2 linked regions of the Homo sapiens genome follow. The protein of the gene in region 2 purifies or fractionates together with the protein of the main gene of each other region. This does not show direct contact. Each region holds a gene or a part of one and is shown on either strand. Other genes may lie near its edges.

Region 1 (3,500 bases), on a different chromosome or scaffold from region 2:
CTGCATGACCTTTCTGAGTACGATGCTGAGTATTCCACGTGGAACAGAGATTATCAGCTGTCTGAAGAGGAGGCGCGAATAGAGGCCCTGTGTGATGAAGAGAGGTATTTAGCCTTGCATACGGACTTGCTTGAGGAGGAGGCAAGGCAAGGTACTGCTCAAGACAAACTTACTTCAGCAACAAACTTTTTAAAATTTTTAAGTATTTAAAAATTTACTCCCATTCATTTTTTTATACTCACTCTTTCTGATATTATCTTGACAGTACCCAGTGGATTGGAAAAACAGGAGTCTTTGCGTTCTGAGAGGACCTCAGGATAGTTTATATATAGAGCCACAAAGAATTTTCCCAGCTTTTGAGGGCAGACTGGGATTTGAAAAAAACAAAAACCAAACTCTTTAACTGTTCTTCTTTAACAGTATCGTATAAATAAAATTGATGTTCTTGTCTTTGCCGTAACAGTCTTTAATACAGTTCTTAATCCCAAAATTTTCTCAGCAGGAAGAAATTTTCCACAAAAGACGTGTATTCAGCTGTCTGTGGGTAAACATGTACTGACAAAAGTACATAATGATAGATATAAAGTGTGAATTTTTAAAACTATTTTACCTCAAAAGTAGGTTGAAAAAAGTATGTTGTATGCTTTACTGATAGCTACAACTTTAGAAATATATAAAGTTTTTCTCAGTAATTTTCTATTTTTGTTGATAAAATTCTCATTTTTATTCAAGAGGAAGAATACAAGCGATTGAGTGAAGCACTAGCAGAGGATGGGAGCTACAATGCCGTGGGGTTCACTTACGGTAGCGACTATTACGACCCGTCAGAGCCGACGGAGGAGGAGGAGCCTTCCAAACAGAGAGGTGAGTGGGGAGCTGCCTGGACTGCTGGTGTAGGGCTACACGTGTACGCACAGGCTGCATGCACCGTGGTCCAGTCTGCAGAACACATCTCTGGCACTCATGATAGCACCACTATGACCACAGGAGAAAACGGGAGTGATATTCCTTCTTTTGGTAAAACGAAGTTAAAAACTAGAATGATTAATGGAGGTGGAAAGTGAATGCGTTGGATTATTTATTTCTCATTGATTCGGGTAACAGAATTACTCATTCAGGATTATTTGTTTCTAGATTGGTAACATGTTCATTAATATCCTCAGGGATTCATTCTTGAGGCAGTGAAAGAATAGGTGTTAACTGGGATAAGTTAACATCACCGCCCTCTCACTGACCTGCTTCCCCATATCCCTCCACAACTGAGACAGTGACACATGCCCAGTGGAAGGACACAGTGAGGGAGTTTCTACTCCCCAGAAAACAGCACAGCTTCCTGGTAGCCTTGATGCCACCTAGGGCATATACTTACCACAGTATTTTAAATTAAAGATTTGGAATTTATGCTTTTCTGGATTAACATGGGAAACTTTGAATATAAAAAATAGTGCTGCTGAAAAACCTGGGCTCGTGTAGTATAGACACAAATATCCTCAATCACTTCACTAAGCGTCGAGAGCTCCACTACCACAGCGCTGCATCATGGTCAGTCGTTAATTAGCAGTAATGCTAACATGAACCTGACACCTTAAAGACGGGTCAGTATATTCAGGATATTCTGTTTAAAAAGAAGAAGAACATTAACTTAGAAACATTCAAATGTTTACATTACATCAAATGGAGATTTAATTGTAGAGCTAATTTAATCTGTTATTCTGAACTTCATCGGTTTCTCCTTAAGTAACACTTTTTATCTTTTTAAATTTTTTTATTAAAATACACAATAATTTAAAAAAAGAGATGGGGTCTCACTGTGTTGCCCAAGCTAGTCTCAAACTCCTGAGCTCAAGTGATCCTACTGCCTTGGCCTCCCAAAGCACTGGGATTACAGGCATGAGCCACCACATCCAGCCAAGTGACACATCTTTTAACAAGTATGAAGCAATTATAGCACTTTAGTAGTAAAGCAAAATGATGTTTGCCCTTCCATCCTGTGACTGCACTATGGTTCTACCCATCGGCACTCTCCAAGGGCTGCGATCCTAACGGAATGATAGGACGTGGGGCAAACGCACACACCGGCTTTCCTTTTGCCCTGTCTTTAGTCCTGCTCCTTACTTTGTGGGCACAAGAATTACTGTTGCACAGCTCTATTTTATGAGCTTTTAGAGAAACTTTCAAGTGTAATTGTAATTATACTGAGTTAAAGGCCAGTTAAGGTATTTAAGACTTTTTGCATTGACTTTCAAACCTACCCATCCCTCAGAAGTTACGATGCACTAGAAATGTTCTATCAGGTCTAAAACGTAAACACCCATTTATTTATCCAGAATAAGCTCTCCTTCCTCGGGTTCTGGATAGTTCTGATTTTGTTGTCTTATCTCTAAGCCACACACATGAGTTCAGCTTTCTATCTGTGGTGTTTTTATCAGAAGGAAGGAATAGATACTATAGCCACTTCACAAATAAAGAGTTGAAATACAGTCAGCTTATTGGGTCCACATCTGTGGATTCAACCAACCACAGATCTAAAGTATTGGAAAGAAAATAACAAAGTTTTATTGGAACACAGCAATGCTCATTTGTTTACATATTGTCTGTTGCCACTTTCGCACTTCAGCAACAGAGTTGAAGAAATGAAACACCATATGGCCCACAAAACCAGAAATATTTATTAATACTGTCTGGCATTTTATAGAGTTTGTCAGCCCCTATTCTAGATGATGGACCATTGTCTCGGCGTAATTATTGGGCTAAATGATGTTCAGTTTGTTATAATTATTGAATCTTGAGAACTTCAGCATGACTTAGCTTATCATCTGAGTATTAGTTTGCTTTCCCCTTAAGATAAAGTTCTCTTTAGTATTTTACAATGTTACTTCTTTTCTTTCTGTAATCGTGTTCTCAGAACATTGCCTTATATACTGATTAATTTCGTTAATGGAAATTGGGCCCACATAAAACTTAGAGCTTGACATTTCGTGTTTAACTTGCATTAATATAAGTGAAACACCTAACACACACACACACATACGTGCATATTGTAATAGAATCCAGTACCACTAACAGCCCCATTGAGCGTCACATTCTGTTAAAATAAAATTTTTTTTCCTGAGCCATCAATATGTCTACGTATGTCTTGATTTTCAAAATTACTGTATTGTATTGTTTGTTAGTATTTTAAAGCCTTGTGATACTAGCCAAAAGCATTTTGATGGTGCCTCCATCTCTGATCTTTACTATTTTCAGTCAAGTTTTTATCCTTTAGATGTTCATAATTTTTCATCATTATTCTATATCCATTTTTTTCCCTCTTTTTTAGGGGAATAATGGGGCGGGGACAGGCCCTCACTGCTATATATCCATTTTTTAAACAAAAGGTTATTTGAATTTATTTAAATCTGAGTTTGTAGTGCAATGGTTGGTTTTTATTTTGTGCTACTAAAGCTGTTTTTTTGTAAATAAAGGTATATATAAGAATAGACCAAATCTGTTTAACCCAT
Region 2 (4,149 bases):
GATACCCCCATATGGGCTCATCTTCTCTTGGGGAGCCTCCAGTCAATAAGTTTCCTCTCTGGGCCCAAGAGAAATCAATTCAGTTGGCCAGGAGAATTGCCAAGCACATATTATGTTAAAAATACTCTTCCAAATAACTGAGAATAAAGACTTTACAGACTAAAGGCCAGGAGCGGTGGCTCACGCCTATAACCCCAGCACTTCATGAGGCCCAGGTGGGCGGATCACATGAGCTCAGGGGTCCCAGACCAACCTGGCTAACGTGGTGAAACCCCGTCTCTACTAAAAATGCAAAAATTAGCCAGGCATGGTGGCACACGCCTGTAGTCCCAGGTACTCGGGAGGCTGAGGCAGGAAAATCGCTTGACCCAGGAGGCGTAGGTTGCCGTGAGCCGAGATCGCGCCATTACAATCCAGCCTGGGAAACAGAGACTCCATCTCAAAATAATAATAAAAATAATAATAACGATAGTATATTAGTAATTAATAACTTAGACAAAACACAACATACCAACTCCAATAAATCCAGCACTTGGATTTGTAATTTATCTCAAGAAATGTGCATTAGGATAATAAAGGAAAATAAATTTAGATCGATACAAGCAGAACTTTGCGTTCTTTTAAAGCCAAGCCTCAGCCTTCCACCCCCCACCGCCCAGGGTCTGACCCCATAAATTCTCTGGAACTCAGCCCATGGTGCATCTCTGCCTCCTGGGTGACTGGGGAGCGGAAATAAAAATTACGTTCCAGTGAAAGTCAATATAAAATTGTACACTCCGCACAGGCACAAAAATGCATCTCATTCCAGTTTCCATCACCTACGCAGACAACTCCAGCTTTCGCTTAATTAAATACAAATTTTAATCGTCCGGATTTCAGAAGTTCCTGGATCCAAGAGCTTCCTTATACCGTCGCCCTCTCCCATCCACCAGGTCCCAGCGCTCCTCCCGCCTCGTCGCAGGACGCGCCTCCATCGCTCGCAGAAACGTTTTCAAGCAAACCTTTCCCATCTTAAGCTCCGATTCCAATATAAGGGGCCCACAGGTCTCTAATTTTTTACTTAGCTAGGCTCCAAAGGACACCATAGAGATTCAAGGGAATCCAAAAGTGAAGAATCGAGTACTGCTGGGCGACAAACAGGCCTAAAAAAGTCGCTGGGACGCGCCGAGGAGAGGTCCGGCAGTCCGACCCCTAGGCCCCGCCCATCCCGCCATTGTCCCCGCCCATCCCGCCATTGTCCCCGCCCATCCCCGCCATTTGCCCGCCCATCCCCACAGTTGTCCGCGCCCTGCCCCTGCCCTTGCCCCTTGCGCCGCCCCAGTGCACTCGCGTACGCGCAGGTTCCTGCCGACCCGGAAGCGGATCTCGCGGGGCTACTGGCGCTCTCGGGTGAGTCTCCGTCTTTCGGGTTCAAGCCTGCGCCTCGCGGGCCACAGGTTCCCACGCTCCGCTGTCGGGTTTTGGGGTCGCCCTGTAGGTTAAAACCCCGAACCTGCTCATTCCTCTCGCGGCGTGGCCCTAAGACGTTCCCAGTCCCGTCGCTCCGAGAGGGTCTAGAGATCTGCGTCCATTTCGGATTAAAATCGTTCTGAAGTGGGTACTGGCCCCGACCTTTTTGCTTTAGGTCAGTGTGGACACCGACCGCCCACCGCGTCGTTTCTCTGCTTAAAACTCTTCTCTGACTCCCTCTTCCCTCCCCCTGGTAAAGCCCTCACTCGGGGTGGATACACACCCTTCGCCCTTCTCCAGGGAGAACAGAGGGGAAGCAGAAATGGAGGATAAAGAGGGAGAAATGCGCGAAATTAGAGAGCCATCAGAAACAATAGCAGGGACTGAAAAAAAGGATGCTACCAGGATGGGGCCAAACACTCTGTCAGAGAAGGAGAGGAAGGGAAGCCAAATGAGCAGAAAGGGACAGGAAAACGCCGAAATGGGAAAAAGAAAAGGAAAGAAACAGAAGGTGGAAGAGAAACATTTATAGAGAGGGGGAAAAAAATCACATAATGGTGGAGAAAGGGGGGGGCACCCAAATCCATGTGAGTGTGGATTGATTTAATATGGAACATTAAGTTGTGAAGTACTGATGTATGGCTCTATAATTAATTTAAAATTTGCTTCATTGTTTGTGCAGAAGAGCATGAAAATTGCAAAACTACGGTGTGAGGCTTCTGCGTTTTCTAATTATTACATCAGAAGCAACCCTTATTCAGCCAGAGGGTTAACTGACTTAGCTCAGTTAATTCCAGCTCACCCTCTTCCCTTTCTCTGATCTTGAGGAGAGTCAAGAAATGGGAAGAAACTGTGACACCGTATGCTGCTTTTGCAAACAGACATTAACAATATTATTCCCTCCTTTTTTGTGTGTGGCTTGTGTCATTTTCTAAATTTGACGTGTATTCAACTTGTCTTAAATGTAATTCCATAATTTATTGGATTTAAAAAAAATTTTCAAAGTATTTTCTCTTAAATGTATTGTTCAGCTTATGAGGTTTAAATGCTTTCTTTTGCTTTCTTTTATTTATTTATTTATTTTTTTGAGACGGAGTCTCACTCTGTCACCCAGGCTGGAGTGCAGTGGCTTGATCTCGGCTCACTGCAACCTCCGCCTCCAGGGTTCAAGCGATTCTCCTGCCTTAGCCTCCCGAGTGGCTGGGATTAAAGGCATGCGCCACCATGCCCGGTGAATTTGTATTTTTAGCAGAGACGGGATTTTCACCTTGTTAGCCAGGCTGGTCTCGAACTCCTGACCTCAGGTGATCTGTCTCCGCCTCTCAAAGCACTGGGATTACAGGCGTGAGCCACCGCGCCTGGCCTAAATGCTTTCTACTTTTTATCATATATTGGAACTATTCTTTTATGTCTGGTACTTGATTTCACAGTGTTTCACTCTAAGGTGTTGATAATCTTTTACCACTTAAAATCTGGTTTAACCAGTTAGTTTAATACAGTTGACCTTGAACAACACCAGTTTGAGCTAAGCAGGTACAACTATACAGGGGATTTTCTTCTACCCCTGCCACTCCTGACACAGCAAAATGAACCTCTTCTCTTCCTTTTCCACTGCAGCCCACACAATATGACCTCGGGGAGGATGCGAGGAAGATGAACTGTGATGATCCACTTCTTCTTAATGAATGGTAAATATATTTTCCCTTCTTTATGATTTTCTTAATCACATTATCTTTTCTCTAGCTTACTTTTTTATAAGAATACAGTATATAATACATGTAACATACAAAATATGTGTTAATCAACTGTTTATGTTTTCAGTAGACTTCTGGTCAACAATGGGTTATCAGTAGTTAAGTTTTTGGGAAATCAAAAGTTATACCTGGATTTTTGACTGGAGGTGGGGTGCGATTAGCACCCCATCACTACTGGTGTTGCTCAAGGCTCAGCTGTATTCAGTTTCTTTACTCCCTTATGTCATCTAAAAGCCTCCCACTAAGTAGATGTTCCTCCAGGTCCCCTTTGTCCTTTCTCTGCAAGATGTTGAAGAATGGCCTGGATTGGTGTGGAATTTTGTTCCAACAGAGCCCGTCTGTTCATAATGAAGAGATTACTCAGCACTAATCTCCACAGCTGACCCCCTTTCATGCTTTCCAAGAGTAATAGCTATTTGTAATTTCATATTTTTGAATATTTTTCTGGAAAAGAGTTAAATCCTTGGGATCAATTAAACCCATGAAATAGAAGTTTCTACTCAGGAATGTGAATGGTGATCTGGAAATAAGGACAAACCTTTGCTACTGCCCTATCCAGGCCACCATTTCAACATTCATTTACAACTGAGTTCTGCTCACTCAACTCAGACCTTTTCCAGGTAACTTGGTGAAATATCTCCTCTCTCTGAGGCTCAGTGTGCCCACCTGTAACGTGGAGATGATGGGTATACCAGAAATTCTGAATCTGAGCCGATGGGATCCCTGAAATGATTTTCAGGATTGAGCATGTGTCTGCATGTGGCAATTTTTTGAGAGAGGGTGCCCAGTTACAGTTAGTCTTAAATGACTCTGAGACCTCCAAAAATGATGGAAACTACTAGGAAAGGGGTCGGGGCATAGGGTTAGAGATAGGAGAGCTGCTTCTCTCTCAGCTTTTTATTCTTTCTCCCTATCTCTACATCAGAAGTAAGTCTTAAGTTTTATT

What was found. Proteins that work in one complex are often made in the same cells at the same time.
Region 1: the proteins of ZNF677 (region 2) and SFSWAP purify together in Homo sapiens (affinity purification with mass spectrometry; one large-scale study listed by BioGRID and IntAct). This does not show direct contact.

Annotation. Positions count from the first base shown.
Region 1 is NC_000012.12:131,714,090-131,717,589, forward strand, and holds part of SFSWAP (splicing factor, suppressor of white-apricot homolog), read left to right. Parts: coding exon 1-151; intron 152-732; coding exon 733-864; intron 865-3,500.
Region 2 is NC_000019.10:53,252,074-53,256,222, reverse strand, and holds the start of ZNF677 (zinc finger protein 677), read left to right. Parts: upstream 1-1,349; 5' UTR 1,350-1,389; intron 1,390-1,399; exon of another isoform or gene 1,400-1,624; intron 1,625-3,066; 5' UTR 3,067-3,137; intron 3,138-4,149. UniProt on the Homo sapiens protein: May be involved in transcriptional regulation.